Homo sapiens: one gene and its partners. The protein of the gene in region 1 purifies or fractionates together with the protein of each later gene. This does not show direct contact. Each region holds a gene or a part of one and is shown in the gene's direction. Other genes may lie near its edges. The genes, in order: FOXD4, PPP2R2A, PPP2R2D and PPP2R1B.

What was found.
Region 2: the proteins of FOXD4 (region 1) and PPP2R2A purify together in Homo sapiens (co-immunoprecipitation; 3 studies listed by BioGRID and IntAct, with this or other methods). This does not show direct contact.
Region 3: the proteins of FOXD4 (region 1) and PPP2R2D purify together in Homo sapiens (co-immunoprecipitation; 3 studies listed by BioGRID and IntAct, with this or other methods). This does not show direct contact.
Region 4: the proteins of FOXD4 (region 1) and PPP2R1B purify together in Homo sapiens (co-immunoprecipitation; 3 studies listed by BioGRID and IntAct, with this or other methods). This does not show direct contact.

Annotation. Positions count from the first base shown.
Region 1 is NC_000009.12:115,724-122,915, reverse strand, and holds FOXD4 (forkhead box protein D4), read left to right. Parts: upstream 1-4,498; 5' UTR 4,499-4,796; coding exon 4,797-6,116; 3' UTR 6,117-6,685; downstream 6,686-7,192. Other genes in the region: ZNG1A (zinc-regulated GTPase metalloprotein activator 1A), read left to right, coding at 826-955, 1,343-1,449.
Region 2 is NC_000008.11:26,294,494-26,301,519, forward strand, and holds part of PPP2R2A (serine/threonine-protein phosphatase 2A 55 kDa regulatory subunit B alpha isoform), read left to right. Parts: intron 1-7,026. UniProt on the Homo sapiens protein: Substrate-recognition subunit of protein phosphatase 2A (PP2A) that plays a key role in cell cycle by controlling mitosis entry and exit. Involved in chromosome clustering during late mitosis by mediating dephosphorylation of MKI67.
Region 3 is NC_000010.11:131,945,997-131,953,022, forward strand, and holds part of PPP2R2D (serine/threonine-protein phosphatase 2A 55 kDa regulatory subunit B delta isoform), read left to right. Parts: intron 1-1,533; coding exon 1,534-1,795; intron 1,796-3,113; coding exon of another isoform or gene 3,114-3,150; exon of another isoform or gene 3,151-4,408; intron 4,409-7,026. UniProt on the Homo sapiens protein: Substrate-recognition subunit of protein phosphatase 2A (PP2A) that plays a key role in cell cycle by controlling mitosis entry and exit. Involved in chromosome clustering during late mitosis by mediating dephosphorylation of MKI67.
Region 4 is NC_000011.10:111,749,374-111,756,399, reverse strand, and holds part of PPP2R1B (serine/threonine-protein phosphatase 2A 65 kDa regulatory subunit A beta isoform), read left to right. Parts: intron 1-949; coding exon 950-1,105; intron 1,106-1,305; coding exon 1,306-1,420; intron 1,421-1,830; coding exon 1,831-1,901; intron 1,902-2,822; coding exon 2,823-2,957; intron 2,958-4,067; coding exon 4,068-4,241; intron 4,242-7,026. UniProt on the Homo sapiens protein: The PR65 subunit of protein phosphatase 2A serves as a scaffolding molecule to coordinate the assembly of the catalytic subunit and a variable regulatory B subunit.

The DNA of each region.
Region 1 (7,192 bases):
TTATGCTTCCTGATGCATTTAGCAGACACTAAACATTTGTCATACTCTAAACAAAGTTACAAAGGACTAGAAGAATTCTTGTTCTGTATTTAGAAACCCACTCACGTTACTTGATATTTGGGTATTTAAGTCATGAAAGGTATTTCTTCTAGGAAGCAGTGATTCTAAAGTGTATGCTTAACCAGTCAGTTGAGTGTCTACTCTTGTGTGTTCACAAGTGTGCACAAAGTTTTTGGTAAATTAAGAATATTATTTCAAATAAATTAATTTCATCCCCATAGGAGCCAGTTTATCAGATAATTCGTTTCTCATTTCTGCAAATCAATACACAATGAGCTCATATTCAGATAAATATAATAGTTTTTCTTTATTTCATCATTGTTCATTGATTGCAACCCATTTCTAAAACAAATTATTTAATATAACCAAACTCCTTTAACTTCTCAACTTTTCCCACGAAAACTGTGAAACATTATATAAAATCTTTAATCAATAGGATATGATACATATTTCATCATTTTGTTTCAGGTTTTGGTTGTGATAAATAACACTGAAAAACCATCCTAATATATGTATTAACTTTATCATTAGAAAAGGGGATTGTTCAAAAAGAAAATCAATACACAGAAACCTTTTTTGAAAATTAAAAACATTAAGAAACTTCTTGTAATTCACAAATAATTGGAATTAAGTAATTTTCTCAGCTTAAGAGTTTGTATTTTTTAAGTGAATATCAGTAATTAATCCATTAACATTGATGCTCTATTTCTGCTTTTAAGTTTGAACTGAGGCTGATTAATGTTCAGTCAATTCTCCTTTGAGCAGGGATTGGTGTCAATCAAAGACAAATCACAACAAGTGATTGTCCAGGGTGTCCATGAGCTCTATGATCTGGAGGAGACTCCAGTGAGCTGGAAGGATGACACTGAGAGAACAAATCGATTGGTCCTCCTTGGTAAGTCTCAAAGGATTCACAGTTTTAAAACAAAGTGAAAAATATATTTGAAAGGGATATCATGTGCCACTTAAACAGATTAACCATTCAGGTCCTCTTTTAAAACTAAATAAGCTTGTGGTCAATGTTTCATCTTTATCACGTTACAACGTTCGTAAAAGCTTGTTAGGACTTTTGTTCTTCTTCAGTTTTAGAAAAGTGGTTAATCCAAGGACCAATGTGACTTTGATGTACTGACCTGGAAAGTTAAAGATGGAATCACTCAATTACTATTCTTTTTGTAAATTTCTAAACACCATAAAGCATTTAATGAACTGGAATTGATAGGTGAACTGTGTCATTTTAATAAGCATAATGTAATCACGTCATATTTTGTTTTGTTTGCAGGCAGAAATTTAGATAAGGATATCCTTAAACAGCTGTTTATAGCTACTGTGACAGAAACAGAAAAGCAGTGGACAACACGTTTCCAAGAAGATCAAGTTTGTACATAACACTAGAGGCATTTCTTATCAAAAGGATTGGATAATAAAAATAAGTTTCTACTGGGTATATTTCAAGCATTTATTTATTACTTTAGTTACGAATTCCAATATACTTTAAAATGGTATTTGTTTTACAGCATACATAAAATGTAGCAAATCAGTACTGTAAAACATTTAACATTCATACAGTTATATATAATATCCTTTTTTTTAAAGAATGGTATTTCACAAAAATATCTTTTGAAATTGGCTTTGGAGTTTACATATACTGAACATGAAAGTTTATAATAATGATGATACAACTTTCAACATTGTCATTTTTTCTTAGAACTTCAGCTGATTGCAGAGATATAATGATTACATTGTTATTAAATTTTTTTAACACAAGTAAGTGTCACCATTTTATGACATGAAATAAAAGGTTATGACTGTTATTGATGTTGATGTTGACGACCTGATCACCTGGCTGAAGGAGTGTTTGTCAGGTTTCTCCATTGTAAAGTTACTCTTTTCCCCCATTTCATACTGTGCTCTTTGGAAGGAAATCACTATGCACAGCCCACACTAAAGGAATGGGGAGTTGTAGTGTACTTTCTTGGGAGTGGTCTACATGATTAATTGAAATTCTTCTGCAAAGGACAGTTGTCCCTTTCGCTTTATTAGTTCGATCATTTATGTTTATCAGTGTGGACACATGAATATTTTATACTTTGGGTTACAATTTAATACTGCTTTATTTTGTTGCTCAAATTATCCCAGCTTTGACCATTGGGAACTCTTTCCGTTATCTCCTGTTCCCACCTTTGACATACCCCCATCAATGTGGGTTTTGTGTTTTGTTTTTGAGTGCCTCCTTACTTTTCTCCTGTATTTTTAAATAACCCCAATCCCTATTGAAGCTGGCGCTAGGAAAACTAACAATACTCCCTTTCCCAGGTCATCCGATTCCTATGCTGATGGAGGAAATTTGCCTCACATGCTGGGGGCGCTGGGATTTTGTGGTTGAATAAGACACCTGGCCTGGCCCTCCTGGAGCTTAGTTTAGTAGGTCACACAAGCAGTCATTGGTAAATTTGGGATTCAAACAAATCTGTTAGGCTCAAACCTGTCTGTTATTTGTCCTCCAAGCTTCATATAAACTGAGGAGCCTTAAAGGGTAAAAACTTCAGGAGCAGCAAAGTTTCAAAAAAAGATCAGCAAGAAAGCCCTTTTCCAGATTTTATCCTGAAGGCACTAGCTACTTTAAGCTATTTTTTATTATATTTTGCCCTTGCAGTTGGCGTTTGATTTCTCACTGAACATTCATTGTCATAATTATAGACACTATGTGACTATCAAGGGCATAATATTCTTTCATGCTGCATTTTTATTAGATGGCACCTCAAAGTTTTCCCAAGTAGGTGGGTTTTAAATTATGAATATATACCGTGGCATAGTATCTTACTTAGTATTTTAATAAGATCCTTATTTATATAACAAATATTTTTTTTATTCCTCTGTAGTGCTACTTTAGTCTCTGAGCTAATTTTCATGAAGCCAATCTAAAAATCGTGTTACTTCTAAGGATGTGGAGCGAGTGAGATGAACAGTTGTGCTGTCATATTGCCCCTCCCCAGTGCAGACAGTGAATGAGGACCCACTGATTTAAAGGCAACACTGCAGCCCCTTCTTGCCTCATTGAAGTCCCAAGTTTTATTACAGTAAAAGCACTTAATGTTGACATTTCTGAAAGAATGAAGAGGCCGGGCGTGGTGGCTCACGCCGGTAATCCCAGCACTTTGGGAGGCTGAGGCGGGCGGATCATGAGGTCAGGACATCGAGACCATCCTGGCTAACACGGTGAAACCCCGTCTCTACTAAAAATACAAAAAATTAGCCGGGTGCGGTGGCGGGCGCCTGTGGTCCCAGCTACTTGGGAGGCTGAGGCAGGAGAATGGCGTGAACCCGGGAGGCGGAGCTTGCAGGGAGCCGAGATCCCGCCACTGCACTCCAGCCTGGGCGACAGAGCGAGACTCCGCCTCAAAAAAAAAAAAAAAAAAAGGAAAAAAAGAATGAAGAGCCAGAGCCAGGCATAGTGGCACGCCTGTAGTCCCACCTACTCAGGAGGCTGAGGCGGGAGGATCACTTGAGCCCAGGAATTCAAAGCCAGCCTGCGCAACATAGACCCTGTCTCTAAAAATGAATTGGTTATAAAGGATGAAGAAAGGAAGGAGGAAAGGGAGAGAGAGAAGCCCTTATAGAGTGGGTGCATTTCTTGTATGTGGGGCCACTTTGTAAGAACAGGATTTTTCAAACTGGGCCCATACTGGTATGTGTGAAATCAATTTAGTTGGTTATGGCCATTTTTTTTTAAAAGGAAATATCAGTGATCACTATAGTGTAAGTATATTGTTTCGTGAAAGCCATCTTAGTTATGTATTATGTCTGTATGTGTAAGATTGTGATATAAAATGTATTTCTGTGGTTAAATATTCAAAGAAATTGGAGAACCATTGCTACAAGGGGACAGAGGACTCCGTGTGAGCTCTCCTGCCTTCCCTGAATAAACTTACACAATTTAGTGCTGGGACATTTGAACCTTTTCTGAAAATTTGAGTCAGGGAGAGCATCTTGGGGAGGTGGGAAGGAAGGTAGAAGGAGCAAAGCAACACCCCCCTGAAGCCTGGGAATATTGTCAGAACCTTAAATATAATTCAGCTCACCATTCTGGGTAAGGACAGACTCTACCAATGAAAATGGGTGATTACCAGCTGTGAAACACAAAAACATACTTTCACGGTTACACATTCCTTTACAAACAACCGTGTACATTTCAGCCTCCTACCCCACCATTTCTTTTCTCCAGGCGGGAAGGCTGCATGTCGAGGTGGTCGTAGAATGTTGAGTATCCTACTTTCCTACCTCGCTTTTATTTGCGCGGGTTTAAATGCGCCTTAACAGAACCCGTGCAAAGGCTTGCCTACTGTCTGGCTGCACCGGATGAGTAGAGCATCTTCCTTGGTGGCAGGTGGGTGCGAGGAGGAGGGCGCTGGGCTTTTCTCCGGACGGTGTTTGCCCAGAAGACCATCATCCCTGGACTACGTTAGGAGGAAGTGGCACCGCTCCGAGGTAGGGGAAGAAGGGTTATAAAGGGAGGCGTCCACCACACATGGTCTTGAAGAAGCTTTTATAAAAGGCGAAGGCATCTTTGCCGGACGTTGTTGCAAAGGCGTAGAAACAAGCAGAGGAAAACATCCCAAAGGGTAACCACTAGCGTTCCTGCTTCTTGCAACATTCATCCCGGGCTTCCAGCTCAGCCCGCCGGGGCCAGGTGATCCGGCCGCCACATCCCCTGCGACTGAAGCACCTGCTCCGCCATGAACTTGCCAAGAGCTGAGCGCCTTCGCTCCACACCGCAGCGCAGCCTCCGGGACTCCGATGGGGAAGACGGTAAAATCGATGTCCTGGGAGAGGAGGAAGATGAAGACGAGGAGGAGGCGGCGAGCCAGCAGTTCCTAGAGCAGTCGCTCCAGCCGGGGCTGCAGGTGGCCCGGTGGGGCGGGGTTGCGCTTCCCCGAGAGCACATCGAGGGCGGCGGCGGCCCGAGCGACCCCTCAGAGTTTGGCACCGAGTTCAGGGCACCGCCAAGGTCTGCGGCGGCCTCTGAAGATGCCCGGCAGCCGGCAAAGCCCCCCTCCTCGTACATCGCGCTCATCACCATGGCCATCCTGCAAAGCCCGCACAAGCGCCTCACGCTCAGCGGCATCTGCGCCTTCATTAGTGACCGCTTCCCCTACTACCGCCGCAAGTTCCCCGCCTGGCAGAACAGCATCCGCCACAACCTCTCGCTGAACGACTGCTTCGTCAAGATCCCCCGCGAGCCGGGCCGCCCAGGCAAGGGCAACTACTGGAGCCTGGACCCCGCCTCCCAGGACATGTTCGACAATGGCAGCTTTCTCCGGCGTAGGAAGCGTTTCCAGCGCCACCAACCGACCCCGGGAGCCCACCTGCCCCACCCCTTCCCTCTACCTGCTGCACACGCCGCCCTGCACAACCCCCGCCCAGGCCCTCTGCTTGGGGCCCCTGCCCCGCCGCAGCCAGTCCCGGGGGCCTACCCCAACACCGGCCCCGGGAGACGCCCTTACGCTCTGCTGCACCCGCATCCTCCTCGCTACCTACTGCTCTCGGCCCCCGCCTATGCCGGGGCACCGAAGAAAGCAGAAGGCGCGGACCTGGCGACCCCGGCACCCTTCCCGTGCTGCAGCCCTCACTTGGTCCTCAGCCTTGGGAGGAGGGCAAGGGTCTGGCGTCGCCACCGGGAGGCGGATGCATCTCTTTCAGCATTGAGAGTATCATGCAAGGGGTCAGGGGAGCGGGTACAGGGGCTGCGCAGAGTTTGTCCCCGACCGCGTGGAGCTACTGCCCCCTGCTCCAGCGACCGTCAAGCCTGTCGGACAATTTTGCAGCAACAGCAGCGGCATCAGGAGGAGGACTGCGCCAACGGCTGCGCTCCCACCAAGGGCGCGGTGCTGGGCGGGCACCTGTCGGCCGCGTCGGCGCTGCTGCGGTATCAGGCGGTGGCAGAGGGCTCTGGGCTGACATCGCTGGCCGCCCCTTTGGGCGGAGAGGGGACCTCACCAGTTTTTTTAGTATCGCCCACGCCCAGTTCCCTGGCCGAGTCCGCAGGGCCCTCCTAGAGCCAGGTGGGAGTGGGGAGCGACCCGCAGCTGCTCACTCCACCTTGCGCGGCCCATACTGGGCGTGTGCATCTGAATCCCGCTGGAGAGCAAACACGAACTTCTGTTCCCTGCAAAATGGTTAGAAAGAAACAGCTGGATTACGTTCCTCTAAAAACCACCTGAACGTAACCTTCGCAGGGCGTCAAGTCATCTTTTCTTGCCTTCGGTTGTGGCTTCTGTGGCTTTCCCGATTTGCACATGTCCTGGGGTACTATGAACGTGAGTGGGGTATTTTGTTCTGGCATTAAAAGAAAAACAAGCAAGCAAACAAAAACACAGCCTCCGATGCCAAACATGTTCCCCCTTCTTCACTTCCTTGGAACTGGAAGTATTATTCCTAAGTCTAGTGCAAAATGCTTCTACTCTCTGTGTCTTCCTGATAGGGATGTTTAATGTAAGTAGGATATTAATTTCAGAACATTGATTTCTTATCTGTGTGTCTGACGTGCCATCTTTAATGTTAAAATTAAGGTGTTAAAATTAAGCCTAGTTATATAGACGAAATAAAATGCTAAGTCACTACACTACATCGTTTATTTTCTATTACGTCTCATTCTTCCCTTTCTAAATGGAACTTTTTAAAACCTACATTATTTTCCCTCAATTTATTTTCACAATTCATATTTATTATAGATAGCAGAAGTAATCCATTTTAATATGGCCTTTAAAAATTCCAAATATTTGAGGTTGAAAATGTCCTGGCTTTTAAAATAGGAAATTTACTATTTATGAGACTTCTAAAAGAATGAATAGGAGGGCATGTAAATATATTCTCCATTTATTTTTCCTCACCCCCCAACAAGCTGGAAAACCATTTGAGATCAATTTGGAATGTAGTGGCCAACATGTACTCAGGGAAAATAAAAGGCTATAAATATACATATATATATATATATATATATATATATATATATATATATATATATATATATATACACATTTTTTAAGCACTAGAATTTTCAAAACTTATTTCCTAAAAAAAAAACTCTGAAAAGACTTTGCAACTAGAAAGGTTTAAGTGTTACTCGGCGTCA
Region 2 (7,026 bases), on another chromosome or scaffold:
TCCACAAAGTTGTTGCATTGTTTCATTCCTGAGAAATGTTGAAGTTTGAGTTTTAATGGTATTGTGTGTCTTGAATTACAGTAGGAATTTTCCAAACAAAACTCAGATAAATTTAAACATGTACTTGTGAGTTTTAAAAATTTGGTGAAAATTCATAAACCTTTTTTCCCTAGATTGTGTTGTCCTCATATTTCTGACCTGTCTGTAGGGTACTGTTTGTTCTGGAGATTTTTTTTCAGGTGGTGGGTGGTAGCCGAACTCTCTTATTTGCTTGTGTCAGTGTCATCCTTAATTGTCTGTTTTAGAGTGTGGTGAATCCTATGGCAAGCCAACTGGTGTAGATTATACTTGTCATATTTTGCAGAGCTCTCTCACGTTCCTTTTCTATTGGATCCTCATCTGTTTCTTAGATGAGAAACCAGAAACAAAAGAGACTGACTGATGGTCATGCACATAGTGTAAATCAAGGTTTTCTGATGAAGTCAGTGGTGTTTGACTTGTTCAGAGAAGTAAGTCCTGACTTCAAGGGAGGAGTTGTGTATTACTCATGTTGTAACTACATTACCTGTTGAATAGTAAACACTCCAGTATTGGATCATTAGTTCTGTGCAGTTGTGTAATACTCACCAAGTTATGAAAGTGCTGTATACTTGGAAAATGTTCTTTGGTTGAATTCCATTTATTCCCTTAGGAAAGTTCCCCTAAATGCTGAGCACTGAGGGTACTTGGTGTCTGGAACATAAACTCTGCCCACAAGGAGCTCATAGTTTGCTTGTTAAACATTACGCAGAAAGATCACATGGCTTTTATTTAATCAGAAGAAATTGATAGTTCAAAGTGAACATCATTTACCTACCTGAACCAAATAACTTGTGATATACATTAAGTCCTCCCTTAATGTATAGGTTCTGTCAATAATGTAATGTCAATAGGTTCTGTGACTTTAAGCAAAGAAAGCAACTTATAACAAAACCATTTTTTATCCATACCATAACAAAAGATGCTGAGCAGAAAACAAAGTCAAAGTTTTCAAGAACCTATTGACGTGAAGTTAGGAGATAAATCAGTTATAGTTCCCCTTTGCTGATACTTAGTAGCTGCATTTTTCTACTGATTGGTTAAATAATTTTCTTTAGAGGTTGTTAAATATTTTAACGTAAGCATATTCTTAGCATCGTAAAATGCTGATACTTGGTATATACATTTTAGTAAGATAACATATCTTAGTAAAAATATGACTAGTTCTAATAGGTATTGCTGTACAAATGTATTAAGTATAAAAATAATCCAGTTTTCAAATGACACTGCTTTAATTTGGATATTTCTGCATACTAGAGTTTGCATATTATAGTCTTGCTTATTTGACTAAGGGGAGATTTGCTTTTCTGAAGTAAAATAAGGTTATTAACACATTCCCCACCCCCCTACCTTTAGACTGATCTCTTCAACAGGTTACATGTAGCTCAACTTTTACTTGCCTGTTTTCTGTTAATGATACATTTTGATTGTCTCCATATTGCCTGCCTTTCTCCCGTCTACATGCAGTCAGCTGCCAGGGCATACCATTTTTACTCTGTAATGCCTTAATCTTCTTTGCATACCTGCTTTCACCTCTATTCAGGTTTGCACTCTCCCTCATCCAGATTGCAGTAAGTTCCTAAATTATTCCCTGCTTCTTCGTCCTGTTTTGCTTCAAAGTTAATCTTAAATGCAGTCCCAGTTTTGTCATTTTCCTCATAAGTCTACAAGTGGATCACTGTATCCACTGGATTAGGAATTAAGTTCAAACATCTCAGTCTAGAATGTATGACCTTTGCCCAATATGGCCTCTGCTCTCAGTTTATTTGCTGCTATGGCTAATGACCCAGCTAAACAGATACTGTTCTTAAAAGGCGTTCTATGCTCTCTCACTTTAGGGTCTTTGTTTTTGCTGCTTCCACCTTGGAATGCCTGACAATCATCCCACAGTTCTCTTACCAGGATCCTGCTCATCTCTCAAGTCACGCCTTTAACCTTTTTGCTAATTTCCTCTTTTGGAAATAACCTATTTTTAAAGTCTTCCTTTATAGCACTTTGTTACGTAGATATCATATGGTACCCCACATCTCTACTGTTACATACTACAGAGTTTAGTGTAGGACTGATTTATCTTCGTACCTTATGCAGGCATGAAGCTGCTCTGTCTAGAACAGTGCCTGGCACACAGTAGTTGAATATTTGTTTGAATGAAGGAACGTAAATGTTATTGTTCTTAGGTTTTGAAAGGGGAAGAGAAATGGTAAAAGGCAGGATGATTGAGATGTAGTTCTAGCAGTCATGGATTTATTTACTTGGTAGGCTTTTTAAAATAAAAATTTAAAACGCTTTCTGCAGAATCATCGGTAGGCTTTTTATAACCAGATTGATGTTATACAACCGTATAATGCAAAGAAATCAGGAGACCTTGGGTTTTTACCCTAGCTCCAGCACAAACTAGTGTATGTCACTGGGGATAAGTACTCTCCTGGGTTCCTGTGTGTTTAGCAATGGAATAACAAGAGTGGATTAGGTGATTTCTGCTCTTCCTTGTACTTTAATCTTGTTAATTTCCAAAGGCATGTAAAAACAGCCCAAATTCTTTTGGTGTGTGTGTGTGTGTGAGACAGAGTCTCACTCTGTTAGGCTGGAGTGCAGTGGCACGATCTCGACTCACTGCATCCTCAGCCTCCCGGGTTCAAGTGATTCTCCTGCCTCAGCCTCTTGAGAAGCTGGGACTACAGGTGCACCCCGCCATGTCCGGCTCATTTTTGTATTTTTATTAGAGATGGTTTTGCCATGTTGGCCAGGCTTGTTTTGAACTCCTGACCTCAAGTGATCCACCTGCCTCGGCCTCCCAAAGTGCTGAGATTACAGGTGTGAGCCACCGGCCACAAAATTATTACTACTGGTAATTAATACTACTGGTAAGCTAGATTGTTTGAGATACCGTACTCTCTAGAGGCCTTAAATAAAAAATAAATTATTGCTAGTAATATATTTTACATTTTTAATTTTTCTTTTATTGAAAACTGTCTGTCATGAGACAGTAGGTTAAGAGCACAGACTCAGGTGCTAGGCTACATGGTTTGAATCTTGCTCAGTCATTTATCATTTCTGTGGTCATCTCTTTGTGCCTAGCTCCCCTCTATAAAATGAGGATAACAATAAAACCTGTCTTACAGTGTTGTTTTGATGATTAAATGAGTTTATACACATAAAACAGAACAGTACCCAGCAGAAAAGAGCCTTATGAGGATTTAGATATTATTACTTGAACCTTCATATTATTGTTACTTTGAAGGAAGAGTCTTTGGAGTATGAGTATATTGAGGATTTGTCTTTAAAGCCTACTAAAAATTTCTCAAAGTGAAGGAAATAGCATATATGTGTGTTATACATACTCTTTGATTCCACTAGTAAATTACAAAATACATTCAAAATTAAGCTATAGGTTTAGAGGCACATATGCAGCTGGTAAAACTATGAAGAAAAGCTATGAAGTAAAAGGAAAAAAACATACTGTAAAAAGTACTATAAAAGTCAGTATAGTGGCTACCCTTAAGCTGTTGGAAAGGAGTTGTGATCGGGAAGGGCTGGGGAGGCCCTTGTGGGCTATCTTGACTGGGATGGTGGTTGTACAGATGTTTGTAAAGAGTAACCTGGACATTTTTGTTTCAATTTTTGGTTTTCTTTATCTGTTACATTTTACAGTAAGAAGTTTTTGGAAATCTAATAATGTATTAAAGGGTTTAGGATGAAAAATGGCAGTCCCCTACCTCCCCACTCCTTAATCCCTAGTCCATCTCCTAAGAGCAGTTGTTCAACTCTTCCGCTGGGTTCCTTGGTGCTTCATTTCCTTTTTGGGAATAAAATGGTATTTCTATATCTTGTCAATTTTAGTATTTCCAGCTGACTTGCTCCTCTAGTAGATGATAACTAAGCTATTCACATTATCACCCCCATTTCTGTCCCCATTGTGCCCCGATGTTACATCACACACTATGATTAAATTGGACGTCAGTGCTTAAATTGTTATGACCACGCACACATTCTCTGCTGAACCAGTAGTGCTCTGCAGTGTTTATTTCATCCTCAAGGTAATACAGTAATTGCTTGTTTGTTAATTTGACTATTTGGTTTTTTAAAAAACGTAATCAATCTGGAACATTACAGAAAGTATGTGGAATAGTATAATGAACCCCTGTCACCCGGCGTTGTCAATGGCCAGTGTTGCCCCATGTATGGTTCCATCACTGGACCCTTTCCCATCCTTTTGTTATTTAATAATGTAATACTTGTTTTTAAAATCTGAATTTAACAAAATAGAAAGCCAAGTTCATTTCTTAAAGTCGAACAGTAAGAAATTTTTTCTAATGATTTTGATAATGTGTTTAAATTTTACTTGTGGAAATAAATTATTAAAAATTCAAATACATGTGGATAATCTGAAGTGTGTAATAATTGGTCAAAATAATAGAACAGGCCAGGTGCAGTGGCTCACGCCTGTAATCCCAGCACTTTGGGAGGCCAGGCGAGAGGATCTCTTGAATCCAGGAGTCTGAGACCAGCCTGGACAACATAGTGAGACCTTTTCTCTACAAAAATTAAAAATATTAGCAGGGCATGGCAGTGTGCAACTGTAGTCCCAGCTACTAAGGAGGCTGAGACTTGAGCCTGAGAGGTCTGCTACAGTTAGGCTGTGATTGTGCCACTGGTCTCCAGCCTGGACAATAGAGTAAGACTCTGTTTCAAAAAAAAAAAAGGAACAACTTAACCATTCAAGATAGTTATTTTAATTATTTTAATGTAGATTTTTCATTGTTTAGTAATCTTAAAATATCAGATGTTATTAAATATTTAATAATGAACCTCATCTGCATATTTGATAGTCTTAAACTTTCACAGGAAATTATTTTAGGATATTATCTTATAAAGTCTTATTTTATGAAACTTGGATCCAAGTACATTGTGTGTTTTCAACTCTTTGCTTTCTGTTTACTTTTGGTAGGATTTAGCCTTGTGGACTGGGTCTTGAAAAAATATTTTTTAAATGGTAGAGGCTAAAATATGCCCCAAATAAGGACATAAGTAAAAATTTGAAAAACAGTCCATATTATGATATCTCACACAATTTAATGGTTTTAGTCCATTCCATATGTTTAATGCTATAATGTAAACAATTTAAAATCATTTCTCTTCTGCATCTCTTTTTTTTTTTTTTGTTAGAGACAAGGTCTTGCTGTGTTGCCCAGGCCGTCTTCTGTGTTTCTTAGAGTAGTATGCATGTTAGATTTAGGCAGTAAGGTAAGTTAGTAGAAAAAGTAGAACCCTGTTGTTTTGTGGATTTAAAAATAGTGGCACATTAGCTGTATTCCGAAACCTAATGACCTATGGTAAAGGTCTTATTTAATATCCTTACCTTGTATGACATGTGACACTTCTTTTTCTTAACACTAGCATTACTACTGAAGTCTAGTAGACCTCACTCAGTACAGTCACTTAAAGTAGTAGTGTAAGTTTACCCATTAAATACCATGAATGATAGTATCTGTTTAGCATCAAATAGTTTTCTTGCTTTGTTTTAAAATACTAAGTTTTTTCACATTCATTTGACAAAAAATTATGAGAGAGAATGGCCATTGAAAACATATTGCTGACATTTTGTCATGTTATTAAAATAAAACAAAAATTAGCCTTAGGTGTTTCTTAGTACTCTGTAATAGTGAACAAAATATTAAAATCAAGTTCTTGAAAATTGTGGAATAAGCAGAATGATGAGAGGTTGAAGCAAAAATGTATTAAATCAGTGAAGAGGTTACAGTATGTTACGTATTTGCATATAAGTGTTTGCCTAGTTTATCTTAAAGTTGATTGTAGGAAGAAAGGTACGTTTCTTAATGCTGTTAAATAGGAAAACTGAAGGATTGGAAATAGCTAAAAAATTTTAGTTAATATCCTCAACTGTAATCTCGTTGCCCTTTAAGGTGATGATGGAATTTGTAATTAAGTAATCAAGTATCCATAAGGTGCTTCCTCAGCAGACAGAAAGAAAAGTAAAAGCTGGCGGGGCGCGGTGGCTCACGCCTGTAATCCCAGCACTTTGGGAGACGGAGGCAGGCAGATCACGAGGTCAGGAGTTTGAGACCAGCCTGGCCAATATGGTGAAACACTGTCTCTACTAAAAATACAAAAATTAGCCGGGTGTGGTGGTGCGCGCCTGTTGTCCCAGCTACTCAGGCTGAGGCAGAAGAATTGCTTGAACCTGGGAGGTGGAGGTTGCAGTGAGCCGAGATCGTGCCACTGCACTCCAGCCTGGGCAACAGAGCAAGACTCCATCTCAAAAAAGAAAAGAAAAGAAAAAGCCTAGGTGCAAATTAGATTTTCTATAAATAAACTGCTATATAGTCATTGTAAGGAAGGCATGGCATGGCCATCTTGAGTACCTACATTTTTTGAGTGCTTAACTATGTATCAGGCATTGTTTTAGGTCCTTTACATCTATTTATTTACTGTTCTTCACAAATACCCTGTGAAATAAGTAGATACTGGTGGGAAAGTTAATTAACTGTATAATCTTGAGCAGGTGGTGAAGCTGGGATTCTTACCTTAGACCTTTCACTTTTCCTAATATAATTTTATTTCAAAACTTAATCTCCTTTTAGTTCAGGTGAAGGCGTTTGATGTTGAACTGCAACTCCTGTTTATAACAAGGTTTATTTGTAATGCCTAGTAGATACTTTTTATTTTGAAGTAATTAAATATAATTTGGAGATTTGTTGAATTTTCAGCTAATGCCATTCTTTTTTTTTTCCTTTTTCTTTTTTTTGTTTTTTTTTTTTGAGACGGGGTCTTGCTCTGTCATCCTGGCTGGAGTGCAATGGCGTGATCATGGCTCACTGCAGCCTCAACCTCCCAGGCTCAAGCGATCCTCCTGCCCCAGCCTCCTGAGTAGCTGGGACTACAGGCACAGGCCACCACGCCCGGCTAGTTTTTAAAAATTTTTTTTTG
Region 3 (7,026 bases), on another chromosome or scaffold:
TCTGCCCAGAGCCTGGGTGTCTCCTCAGAGGCTGCCAGCACTGAGTCCCGCCAAGAGCCACCCGTTGCCTCTGCCTCTGTGCGTGAGACCTGGGCTGAGGCCGCCAGCACACAGGAGGCCATTCCCAGCTGTTGGAATGAGCTCCTGTTCATGTTGAGCTTGGCTGGATTGGAAGCCACTTCCCTTAGCTGAAAGTCTAGCATTTTAATCCAGTGAGCTTTCAAGCTCCTTTTAGGTGAGGGAGGTTCTGGTTTTGTTTTTATTTTTAGCCATAAAGAATGGGCTTGACTTTATAGAGCACTGTAGTCAGCGTGTCCCAGTGTCCTGAAACATTGCTGACCCTTCCTCCAGTGCCAGCAGGTAGACACACGTCCAGTGACTTCCTCTGATGGGGAAGCCGCCAGTCAATCCCACCAGACTGAGCCGCTGCTCATGTGCAGCGGCGCCCCCAGTGCCTCGGTGGAATGTGCCCATGGACCGTGTGCAGCAGCCTTTTCGCCTGTTCTCTTTCCTGAGGTTGAGTGTGTTTTTAAGAATTCGTATTTCTACTAGAATTCCTGCGATGAGGATGAGTGTTTCGTAGCATTTGGCCTGTATCTTAAGCATAAAATTCTTGAGTAAATAATTTCAGATTCCAGTTCTATTTGTCATCAGAGTGATTTATTTGAGTAAATGCTTGGCGTCGGCACAGCTGGCTTCAAGTTAATTTCAGATGCTAAGCCGACAAACACAGGCTCCTGCATCAAGAAAAAAGAGAAAAAACCTAAAGCAGCTTCAGGTCAAGGAAGCACAAGCCAGGTGCAGTGGTGCTCACCTGTGGTCCCAGCTACCCTGGAGGTTGAGGCGGGAGGATCTTTCTGAAAATAGGAATCCAGTTTTGTCACAGTAGAGCTTGTGTATATTCAGTATTGGAGACAAACCTTGGCTGGCTGGCTTTGACCGGCGGGACCGTCTTGGTGGTTAAAATCAGGACCACAGCGTTGCCAGTCAAGGTGGTCACTCCTGCAGACCCACAAACTGTCGACCCTCCAAAAAGCAGGCAGTTTCTTAGAGGCACAGACCGCTGTGTCTGCATGACCATATAATGCTGTTTGTGTCTTCCTGTGATGTGTATGCGATAGAATTTCACGTGCTCGGGCCTGGTGCCATGAGGACGCGGAGACACTCCTACAGGAATGCGGTGGTGCTGAACCTGGGCACACATCAGGATGCCCCGAGGAGCTCCCACAGATGGCAGTGCCCAGGACCTTGCCTAGAGATTCTCATTCAGGGTCCGGGTGAGACTTGGGCGTCTACGCTTCTCATGCCCATCCCTTGTCCATAGCTGGTGCTAGAATGTCTTATCCGAAGCTCTTGCCCACGGAAGTCACAGAAGATCAGAAAACCTAGAGAATCAGAAAGATCAGAAGACCTAGTGTTGAGGCCAAGCCCTTCCAGAGTCTCTCTGAAGGGGCCACTTCCTACTTGAACTTGAAAATGATTTGTTCTCTGATTTTTAAACAGAAGCTGAAAACATTTTATTTTGTTTTTCAGTTTTTGAAGAGCCTGAAGATCCCAGCAGTAGGTCCTTCTTCTCAGAAATAATTTCATCCATATCCGATGTAAAATTCAGTCATAGTGGGCGGTACATGATGACCAGAGACTACCTGTCGGTGAAGGTGTGGGACCTCAACATGGAGAGCAGGCCGGTGGAGACCCACCAGGTCCACGAGTACCTGCGCAGCAAGCTCTGCTCTCTCTATGAGAACGACTGCATCTTTGACAAGTTTGAGTGTTGCTGGAACGGTTCGGATAGGTAAGGCCTGCGTGGAGATGAGCTGTCGCCCCAAGCTTGCTGGTTTCCGAGAGTGCAAGGTCAGTGAGGGAGGCGAGCTGTCCTCCAGCGTCAGAGGAGGACGCTCATAGGGTGTTGTTTTCCAGACCTTTTGATTGATGGATGATAGTATCAAGGTAGAGAAAATAGGATCTCTGAGCAAGTTTCTCACCTAGCTTGTCATTCCATTTATATTTAGACAAGAAGTATAGCACTAGGTACAGGCCGGCTATGTGTTAAATGCTTAGTGAATGATAGTGTATTACTTTTTATTATGCTGATAATGAGTGAAAAGGAAGGAAGTGGGGAAGTGATTCACCTCACTGGAATGACCGCGTTGCAGTCTGCCTTTCCTTCTGGAGAGAAGTAGATGAAAACACCCCAGAGCCACTGCCTGTCATGCCCAGACACAGCGTGGTCATGGCTGGTCTGAAACACCAATGTAATTTATAATGTGATGGTTCTAGTACCTTGATAATTTATTTTGTATACATTCTTTAAAGATAGCTATGATTAGTGTGGTTGAGAGTTACGTTTTTTTTATTATGCAAAAAGTTACGTTTCAGATGATGGAAGATTGTCTTGCACCATTTTTATATAGAATTTTTGTTCAGAATTCAAGAGAACAGAGGAGTCTATTGGCAATAAGTGATTGACTGGATATTCTGCAAAACCCTCTGGCATAAACACCTAGAAATGCTGGATATGATACAGCAGGTGTCTCTTCAGGTGCATAGTTGAGCTCACAGATAAGCAAGGGAAATCTCACAACGGCCAGAAACTAAGAGGGAGCTGAAACCAGAATGGCAGCCTCTGAAGGCGTCTATTCCGAGAGCAGCCTTGCAGCCCCGGCTGGCCTCAGGAGCATCAGCCCATAGCAGGAACCACTGCCCCTGTGAACAGCAGGTTATGGTGCAAAGCTGAAGCCTTGTCCCACACGAGGTGACTTGCTCATGGTGGCTTTTCCTGTATGTGCTTGGTAATTTTCAAGAGCTGAAGCCTTGGCCCACACGAGGTGTAGAGTTGGAACAGGGACCCCTGAAGATGGTGTCTCCCTCCACTGGCAGATAGGGTCCAAAGGGCAGTTTGTCTGTCTGAGGCCTTGCATGGGGGTGGCCAGCACTGCCCTGAGAAGTGGAAGCAAAACCTCCCCTCACAAGGGTTTGCAGTTTGGGTTTGTGCCAGCTACATCATGATCTGTAAAATCTCACACTGTGGAGCTCCTGCCTCCACGAGGGCTGTGTGCGGGCATCGGGAGGGACCGGCGTGTTTCCAGATCTGGCTTCTACTCTGTTTGCAGACTGACCTGCCAGCCTGTAGCATCTCACGGATGTTGACTGAAGACATGAGGTTCCCGGGTTCTCATGGCACAGCTGGCAGCATGAGCCTCTCGTTGGCCTGGGTTCCCCACGGGTGGACACTTGAGGCCGTGGCTGATGCACACTGAGCTTGGAGAACCCCACTGCTTTCACAGCGGGCAGTAAACACACCTGCACTTTGACTAGAAGAGACATGACCTCATTCCTCAAGGCCGCTTGCTGGAAGCACAGCCCTGAGAAGTGGCCCAGGTGGAGAGAATGGCATTGGCAAACTCCGTGAGAACACGCATGCTGGGTAGCTGCTGCCAGCACACCCAGGTCTCTCTGGATTTCGTCACATTAAAATCATCTAAACATGAGCTCACAGGTGAAAATTACCAAGCACATACAGGAAAAGCCACCGTGAGCAAGTCAGCAGAACCACAGCAGAACTGAACCTCCGAGAAGGCAGCTGTTGAGATCCTAAGTTAAAGAAGATAAACTAAGAATGCTTGAGATATTCACAGACTAGAGGAAGGAAACAGCCTGAACCAGGAGCCACATGACCGCTAAACGTGACCTGGAGACTGGAAAGGAATCAGAGGGAACATCTAGAAATGACAAGTATGATACATGACCGCCAAACATGACGTGGAGACTGGAAAGGAGTCAGAGAACATCTAGAAATGACAAGTATGATACATGACCGCCAAACATGACGTGGAGACTGGAAAGGAGTCAGAGAACATCTAGAAATGACAAGTATGATACATGACCGCCAAACATGACGTGGAGACTGGAAAGGAGTCAGAGAACATCTAGAAATGACAAGTATGATACATGACCGCCAAACATGACGTGGAGACTGGAAAGGAGTCAGAGAACATCTAGAAATGACAAGTATGATACATGACCGCCAAACATGACGTGGAGACTGGAAAGGAGTCAGAGAACATCTAGAAATGACAAGTATGACAGATGAAACTGTGTGGGTTTAGCAGCAGGTCCATTTTGGCTAAACAGATCTTGTATTAGTGGATGGAAAGGAAAACCAGAAGAAATGCGGGCTAAAGAGCCAAACAGAAAACAAGAGACACTAGGAACCGTGGAGGCCAGGGTGAGGCACAGCACACGTTTAAACAAAGTTTGGGGGTGTGAGGCTTAAAGTGACAGTGGCCAGCAATTTTCTCTAAATTATGAAAGCCTGAATACACAGGATCGGGAGCACAGCATCCATCCATCTCATAATGAAATTGCAGGACACCAAACGCAAAGAGAATATCTTAAATGCACCCAAGGAAAAAACGCAAATTACCTCTGAGAGCGGACACCGAGACTGAGACTCGGCTTTGCCACGGCCACAGTGGGAGCCAGAAGCCGTGTGACAGATCCAGCAAGTGTGACTCCTTACTCTCCACCGCCAGCTTAGAATCAAGCCTTGAAGTAGATGCTCGTTCAAGAATCTGCTTGTGATAAAGGCATTTTCAAATGGGAAACAATGTATCACAACAGGAAACTCAGTAGAGCGAGCTGTAAAGGGAGCCTGGCCCTGCAGAAAGGGGCTGAGACAGATAGGCAGAGGAACGCAGCCTGCAGGGAAGAGCAGTGCAAACTCTGAAGCTCTGCCACCTGGACGGCCTTAGTTATCTGTGTTTGGGGGAGAAAAATTAGAGCCCTCACCAGCCCCACACAATAAATAAATAAGCTCTGAGTGTTTCTAAGCCTAAGACATCTTTGTGAGCTCTGGAAACAAGGGCTTCTTTAAGAAGGCCCCAAAAGCCCAAGGAAAACATTAAGAAATTCAACTACATTAAATTTTAAACTTCTTTATATTGAAATTAAAAGTGAAAACAAAATCCACAAAAGGATAACGAACAGAGATTAAGTATCCAGAATAGGTGCAGAATTAGTTGTCAACAAGAAGGTGGCAAACAACTCAGAAAAGAGCAAAAACCATGAATGGGGTTTCGCAGAAATGGAAAAATAAATAGAAATGCTCATCCTTCTTAGTGATCAGCAAGTAAAGCCAGAGGGACGTCCTTTCATGCCCATCAGAATGATGATGGTTTGGGGGAGAGGGTGGAGACCAGTGGTCTTACCCAGTACCCTTCTTGTGACCTCCTTGGTGACATTCAGTCGGGTTGGGAGCTTCTTGCATGTTCAGACAAGAAAACGTGCTCAGATACCTGAAATAGCAAACAACTGGAGACAGCCCACAGGTGCATCATTAGAGGAATGGACAGGTAAGTTGTTCTCTATCATAACATATACTGAAAAGCAGTGAGAATCAATTATTAGAACTACATGGATCACCTAGGTGGATCTCACAAAGATAATCCACAAAGAAAATTCAGGAGGAATGCGTACGGTGCAATGACATACAACATGTTTAAGACATACAAGACGGTTTTGTTTTAAGAATCTGTAACTATTGGCCAGGCGCAGTGGCTCACACCTGTAATCCCAGCACTTTGGGAGGCTGAGGAGGGCGGATCACGAGGTCAGGAGTTCGAGAGCAGCCTGACCAACATAGTGAAACCCCATCTCTACTAGAAATACAAAAATTAGCCGGACATGGTGGTGCATGCCTTTAATCCCACCACTCAGGAGGCTGAGGCAGGAGAATCGCTTGAACCTTGGAGGTGGAGGTTGCAGTAAGCTGAGATTGTGCCACTGCACTCCAGCCTGGGCGATAGAGTGAGACTCTGTCTCAAAAAAAAACAAAAAAAATCTGTATACAAAATATAAATGTGTGTGGGGATGACACATATGTACTCTAGCAAGTGAGGACCCCAACTGGGGATGGGATAGGAGACCATCTTTCTTTCCAGAGTGGCAACACAGTGCAGGGGGGTCCCTGTCTTAGCAGTGACTTGCTGGTGTGCAGAGGGGTCACTCTCTTAGCAGTGACTTGCGGGTGTGCAGGGGGTTCACCACCTTACCAGTGACTTGCAGGGGGTCCCTGTCTTAACAGTGACTTGCGGGTGTGCAGGGGGGTTCGCTGTCTTAGCAGTGACTTGCGGGTGTGCGGGGGGGTTCACTGTCTTAGCAGTGACTTGCGGGTGTGCAGGGGGTTTCACTGTCTTAGCAGTGACTTGCGGGTGTGCGGGGGGGTTCACTGTCTTAGCAGTGACTTGGGGGGTCCCTGTCTTAGCAGTGACTTGCGGGTGTGCGGGGGTTCACTGTCTTAGTGACTTGCGGGTGTGCGGGGGGTTCACTGTCTTAGTGATTTGCATGTGTGGGGGGGGTTCACTGTCTTAGTGACTTGCGGGTGTGCGGGGGTTCACTGTCTTAGTGACTTGCGGGTGTGCGGGGGTTCACTGTCTTAGCAGTGACTTGTGGGTGTGCGGGGGTTCACTGTCTTAGTGACTTGGTGTGCGGGGGGGTTCACTGTCTTAGTGACTTGTGGGTGTGCGGGTGGTTCACTGTCTTAGTGACTTGCGGGTGTGCGGGGGGTTCACTAGTGACTTGCGGGTGTGCGGGGGGTTCACTGTCTTAGTGACTTGCGGGTGTGCGGGGGGTTCACTGTCTTAGTGACTTGCGGGTGTGCGGGGGGGTTCACTTAGTGACTTTCGGGTGTGTGGGGGTTCACTGTCTTAGTGACTTGCGGGTGTGCGGGGTTCACTGTCTTAGTGACTTGCGGGTGTGCGGGGGGTTCACTGTCTTAGTGACTTGCGGGTGTGCAGGGGGTTCACTTAGCAGTGACTTGCGGGTGTGTGTGTGGGGTTCACTGTCTTAGCAGTGACTTGCGGGGGGGGTCCCTGTCTTATCAGTGACTTGCGGGTGTGTGTGGGGGGTTCACTGTCTTAGCAGTGACTTGCGGGGGGGGTCCCTGTCTTATCAGTGACTTGCGAGTGTGCGGGGGTTCACTGTCTTAGTGACTTGCGGGTGTGCAGGGGGTTCACTGTCTTAGTG
Region 4 (7,026 bases), on another chromosome or scaffold:
ATGTTTTTTTTTTCTTTTTTACTTAATTTTAAAATTTTCATTTCCTTTATAGAAACTCTGCATTCTAGCCAAGGTAATTACTTTGCTGTTTACTCATAGTACAAAGTCATTTCTATCTTTATGACTTTGACATGCCATTCCAGGCAAAGGGAGCAGCTCTTTCTTTTTTTTTTTTTCCTTTTTGTTTTTTGAGACAGAGTGTCACTCTGTCGCCCAGACTGGAGTGCAGTGGTGCAGTCTCGGCTCACTGCAAGCTCCGCCTGCTGGGTTCACGCCATTCGCCTGCCTCAGCCTCCCGAGTAGCTGGGACTACAGGCACCCGCCACCACGCCTGGCTAATTTTTTTTGTATTTTTAGTAGAGATGGGGTTTCACCGTGTTAGCTAGGATGGTTTCCCTCTCCTGACCTCGTGATCCGCCTGCCTCAGCCTCCCAGAGTGCTGGTATTACAGACGTGAGCCACTGGGCCCGGCCGGGAGCAGCTCTTTCAAGATATAAATACACGGCCAGGCGCAGTGGCTCGCGCTTGTAATCCCAGCACCCAGCACTTTGGGAGGCCGAGGCAGGTGGATCATTTGAGGTCAGGAGTTTGAAACCAGGCTGGCCAACGTGGTGAAACTCTGTCTCTACTAAAAATACAAAAATTAGCTGGGCGTGGTGGCTCCTGCCTGTAATCCCAGCTACTCGGGAGGCTGAGGCAGGAGAATCACTTGAGCCTGGGAGGCGGATGTTGGAATGAGCGGAGATTGTGCCACTGCACTCCAATCTGGGTGACAGAGTGAGACCCTGCCTCAAAAAAAAAAAAAAAAAGAAAAAGATGTCAAGACGTGAAACTATATAAGGTGTGGCAGTCTTGGTGGTGTTAATTTTTTTAAACACCTGCACCACCCCACAGCAGTTCCCCATGGGTCTCAGTAAATGTCTGAATTACAGAAATTTTGTTCCTTTAGGATTCAGTGCGCCTCCTTGCTGTGGAAGCTTGTGTCAGTATTGCCCAGTTATTGTCTCAGGATGACCTTGAGACTTTGGTGATGCCTACACTTCGACAAGCAGCAGAAGATAAATCTTGGCGCGTTCGCTATATGGTGGCTGACAGATTTTCAGAGGTAAAGTGATCATTTTTAAGTACTAAGGAAATAAACCTGAAAACACATAGATTTGCTGTTGTACCCAAAGTTTCTGAATTAATTCTTTTCAATGGGAAGTGCTGTGGCAAAAATATGTATTTACAGATTGCACAATTTTGTTTTGTTCTTGTTAATTCTTTTGTTAGTATACATTAAAACCCGTTCAAATTCTTTTATAGCTCCAGAAAGCCATGGGTCCTAAAATCACCCTAAATGACCTCATCCCCGCCTTTCAGAACCTACTTAAAGACTGTGAAGCTGAAGTCCGGGCAGCTGCTGCCCACAAAGTAAAAGGTTAAGGAGTTCAATTTATGTTGGAACATGTGTCATTCATTTTGGTGCATTTTTTTGTTAGTCAATTTTGCATGTTTTTTGTTCTAGAATATGTTTTTAAAATACATAGGGATGTTTTTAGTGTGTGGAAATGTTACATTGTCACTTAAAGATAGTCTCTTTATATTTAAAACCAAGAAATCATTTTGTCTTGTTTTTGTAAAAAAAAAAATGCCTTTCAGGTTGGATTGGTGTGATATGCAATGGCATAGAGAGTTCACGAAAAAGTTTATTTAGAACAAGAGCTGTTTTCCTTATTTGCTTAAACATATAATTTAATTGAAATTATTGATAAACCTGGTTAAATGTCCTCATTTGGCTCTTTGTAAATGGCCCTGTGAAAGCATTCTTTTTTTCTATTTATCTTTTAGAACTTGGTGAGAACTTGCCCATTGAAGATAGAGAGACCATAATTATGAATCAAATTCTGCCTTATATAAAGGTAAACCTGACTTTATTTTGTTTCACTCTCTTTTATATGAAGGTAAACCTTAATCTCATTATTTTTGTTTGTTTGTTTACCTTAAAGCTCTTTGAGTTTAAAGGTTGACAGGGAATGAATGGGGAAGATGTGTTAATGTGCAACATTGTTATTCATCACTTATTAGCCCATTGTAATTGTAAACTGCTCTTTGGTGCATAGGTTTATGTTACCTAACAAGTAGTCTGAGGAAACATTATCAACTAATCAGTATTGAAATAGTGCTGTCTTTAAATTCCTTGGGGTCAGGCATGGTGGTACATGCCTGTAATCCAAGCACTTTGGGACGCTGAGGTGGGAGGATTTCTTGAGCCCAGGAGTTTGAGACCAGCCTGGGCAACATAGTGAGACCCCATTGCTACAAAAAATACAAAAATTAGTTGAGCCTGGTGGCATGCACCTGTAGTACCAGCTACTTGGGAGTCTGAGGTGGGAGGATTGCTTGAGCCCAGGAGGTTGAGATGGCAGTGAGCTATGATCATGCCACTGTACTCCAGCCTAGGTGACAGGGTGAGACACTGTCTCAAAAAAAAAAAAATTAGGCCAGGCGTGGTGGCTCACACCTGTAATCCCAGCGCTTTGAGAGGCCAAGGTAAGAGGATTGCATGAACCCAGGAGTTCAAGACCAGCCCTGGCAATGTAGTAAGAACCTGTCTCTGCAAAAAATGAAAAAAATTAGCCAGGCCTGGTGGTGCATGTCTGTAGACCCAGCTACTCTGGAGGCTGAAGTGCTTGAGCCTGGGAGGGTGAGGCTGCAGTGAGCCAAGGTCATGCCACTGCACTCCAGCCTGGGCAACAGAGCAAGACTCTGTTTCCCAGAATAATGGTATGGAAGTTTCTGTTGTCTTGTAATAAAGGCTTTTAATTTCGATTTTATTTTAGGAATTAGTATCCGATACCAATCAACATGTCAAATCGGCTCTAGCTTCTGTAATTATGGGATTGTCTACTATTTTGGGCAAAGAAAATACCATTGAACATCTTCTACCTCTTTTCTTAGCTCAGTTAAAGGATGAGGTGGGTCTTGCTTTATGTTCTGTTGCCTTTGATAGTAATTTGATTTTATTTGATTTTGGTTTAGGGTTTCATTAAAATAGAACCCCCAAAAAGAAAATGGATAAAAAAATCATAACTTATTTTAAACCAATGACACCTGTGATTTTGGGTATGGGGTTATAGGTTCCTCAGAAAGTGGGCAAAAGTACCCATTAGAGTAAACCTAGAAATATCTGTTTATCATCTTTACCTGATTTTTGCTTTATACTCCCTGGTTTCTTTAAAGCTAATGTGTCTTTGTTTAAAAAGTTTCATTTATTTAAGTTTAAATATAGTATCAAAAATTATAATGATACCTAATATTTACTGAGTAATTACTACATGGCAAGCATGAGCCTTAGTGCTTTGCATGTATTTTTACATGCAATTCTCACAACAATCCTGTGAGGTAGGTCTTATTATTATCCCTTTTTGTTTGTTTGTTTGTTTGTTTTGTTTTTTGAGACGGAGTCTTGCTCTGTCGCCCAGGCTGGAGTGCAGTGGCGCAATCTCTGCTCACTGCAAGCTCCGCCTCCTGAGTTGATGCCATTCTCTTGCCTCAGCCTCCTGAGTAGCTGGGACTACAGGCGCCTGCCACAGCACCCAGCTAATTTTTTGTATTTTTAGTAGAGACGGGGTTTCACTGTGGTCTCGATCTCCTGACCTCGTGATCTGCCCGTCTCGGCCTCCCAAAGTGCTGGGATTACAGGTGTGAGCCACCGCACCCGGCCAATTATCCCATTTTACAGATGAGAAAGCTGAGGCATAGAGGGTTAAAGTAACTTGAGCAAGGTCTTTCAACAATGACAGATCTGAAATTTGAGTGCATCTGATTTAGTTCCAGAGATTATGCTCTTTACCATCTTACGGACTTTTCTTGTAGTCTTTAGTATTACGGACTTTTAATTGAAATTTCTGATTAAGATCATTTATGTTCCTTGAGTTATTTATGTATTCACTATTATTTCTTCAAGATTATCCATTTTTTTTTCACCTGAGTCTTACCTCACCTTTTATCTTACCCTGACAGGAGACTGTTGGGCAGAGTACTTGATTTTTAAATGTGGTCTTTTGGGGCTTGTGTACTTGCAGTGTCCTGACGTTCGTTTGAATATCATCTCCAATTTGGATTGTGTAAATGAAGTGATTGGAATCCGTCAGCTCTCTCAGTCTCTCCTTCCTGCCATAGTGGAGCTGGCAGAAGATGCCAAATGGAGGGTCCGCCTGGCCATCATTGAGTATATGCCGCTGCTGGCAGGCCAGCTGGTGAGTATGTGTTGCTCCATGAACTGCAGGGTAGTGTCAGATAGTGACAATTTACCATGGCAAGTAGGAGGCCTAGTAGCCTGTATGCTTATGTTTGTTTAGATGCATGAAAGTATGGCCTTGTTCTTGTTACCTATAGGATGGTTTTTATGTTTGTTAGTGCATACGTTTCTTTTCTTTTAAGATGGAGTTTCACTGTTGTTGCCCAGGCTGGAGTGCAATGATGCAATCTTGGCTCACTGCAACCTCCACCTCCTGGGTTTAAGCGATTCTCCTGTCTCAGCCTCCCAAGTAGCTGGGATTACAGGAATATGCCACCACACCCAGCTAATTTTGTATTTTTAATAGAGATGGGGTTTTACCATGTTGGTCAGGCTGGTCTTGAATTCCTGACCTCAGGTGATTCACCCGCCTCAGCCTCCCAAAGTGCTGGGATTCCAGGCGTGAGCCACTGCATCTGGCCTATTAGTGCATACATTTCTAACAAAAAGGTATAGGTTGAGTATCCCTCATCTAAATACGCTTGGGACCAGCATGTTTGGGACCAGAAGTGGATTTTGGAATATTTGCATTATAAATATTTACTGGTTGAGCAGCCCAAATTCAAAAATGCAAAGTCCAGAATGCTCCAATGAGCATTTCCTTTGAGCATCATATCAGTGCTCAAAAAGTTTTGGATTTTGGAGCATTTCACATTTTGGATTTTTGGATTTGGGATGCTTAATCTGTATTACAGAAACATATTTCACCTCATCACCACCGAAAAACAAAGCCATAGAATAATCAGTTTCTTGGTATATATAATGTAAATTTTATAATATTTAATGCCTTTGTGACTTAAGAAATGTTTAACTGAGAAGAAAAGGGATTATGGTTTTAGGGTAAGTCTGCTGTGATTTTTGCTCAAGGAAACTTCCCTGTTTGCCTTGTATTCTAAGCAAAATGTCCCTAGGTACCACTTGCCCTACATTCTGATTAAAGGGAGTTGAGGAATCACCATATAGAAAAGAAGTATTGAAAGGCCGGGCACAGTGGCTGACACCTGTAAACCCAGCACTTTGGGAGCCAGAGGCAGGCGAATCACTTGAGGCTAGGAGTTCCAGACCAGCCTGGCCAACATGGTGAAACCCCATCTCTACTAAAAATACAAAAATTAGCTGGGCACGGAGGTGCACACCTGTAATACCAGCTACTCGGGAGGCTGAGGCAGGAGAATCGCTTGAACCCAGGAGGCGAAGGCTGCAGTGAGCCAAGATTGCACTACTGCACTGCAGCCTGGGCAACAGAGTAAAACTTTGTGTCAAAAAAAAAAAAACAAAACAAAAACAAAAACTGAAGCTTGTAATGTTAGTATTTTGGTCAAAGTCCACATTATCACATTATCTGTTACTGTTTGAGTTTCGTGATCAGTGTTACCCTAACTAATACCATGTTAGTTAAAATTTCAAAGCTGGGTTTTATAGCCACATCCTTTCCTTTTTTTGAGTAGGTGGCCTAGACAGTTCTAAGTTTGATGTACCTTCATCTCTGTTGGTAGCACTTATTACAGAGTATTGTAATTGTCTGTTACAGTCTAGTTGGAGAGATGGGTGATCTCTTTTAGGGCAGGGACTGTATTTTATTTCCAGTCCCTACCATAGTGCCCGTCATTAATTAGGCACTTAACATTTTTTATTTTGGGGGCAGGGTCTTGCTGTTGCCCAGGCTGGTCTTGAACTCATGGCCTCAAATGATCCTCCTGCCTCGGCCTCCTGAGTAGCTGATAATAGGCATGAGCCACTGTGTATAGCCAACATTTGTTGATTGTTGAGTATTTTTTGAGAAAGATGTGTCAGTTTACTATTGACATCGCTACAGTTTGTTTCCCCTTCCTCACTCCCACTTCCATTCCTTTCAGGTCACAACATATGGAATTTATTTTTTCTTGTCTTGAACCCCTGAATTTGTATTTTTAATTTTAGTACATTTAGTTTATGAACATGCAATTTGTGGATGTCTGTGGCATTATATGTTTTATAAAATTGAAAGTGTCCGATTCTTTGAAAAGTATACCAGAGGTATTAGTGCATGGCAAATGGGATCAGGTGAAGTTATTTTGTCATCCTTTTTGTCTGTCACTCCCAAGTGCTATGGGTCATCTTCTCTTCACTGGTGATTGTCATGGATCTACTTTTCAGAGTGGAGAGGAGCAGTGATTAACTGATTTGCTGAAGACCAAAACTATCTGGAAGGGAGGGTGCATTTTAGTACCATTTCTTTTAACCTCTGCTCCTTCTAGACCTGGAAAGTTTCCCAGGGTTGCTAGCTCTATAGAGAGCAGTGTGAAAGCAAGGCAGATGGTGTCTTTGGCTGACTTACACCTGTCTGGCAGGGGTGACATGCCTCAGTCATGAACATTTTGCTTTACAATTTTAACTTCTTGTTAGTATATATATTCTCCTTAATTTCTCTTCATATCTAAATATTTTTATATCAGATAGTCATTTTATAAAATTCTCTCAAGACTTTATGTATGACCTGGCTTGTGGACGATGTTAAGTAAGTGTAAAGTTAAACTACAAAAACCGGAAAATAGGCCAGGCGTAGTGGCTCACGCTTGTAATCCCAGCACTTTGGGAGGCCTAGGTGGGTGGATCACCTGAGGTCAGGAGTTTGAGCCCAGCCTGACCAACATGGTGAAACCCCATCTCTACTATACAAAAAATTTAGCCGGGTGTGGTGGTGGGTGCCTGTTACTTGGGAGGCTTCTTGGGAGGCTGAGGCAGGAGAATTGCTTGAACCCAGG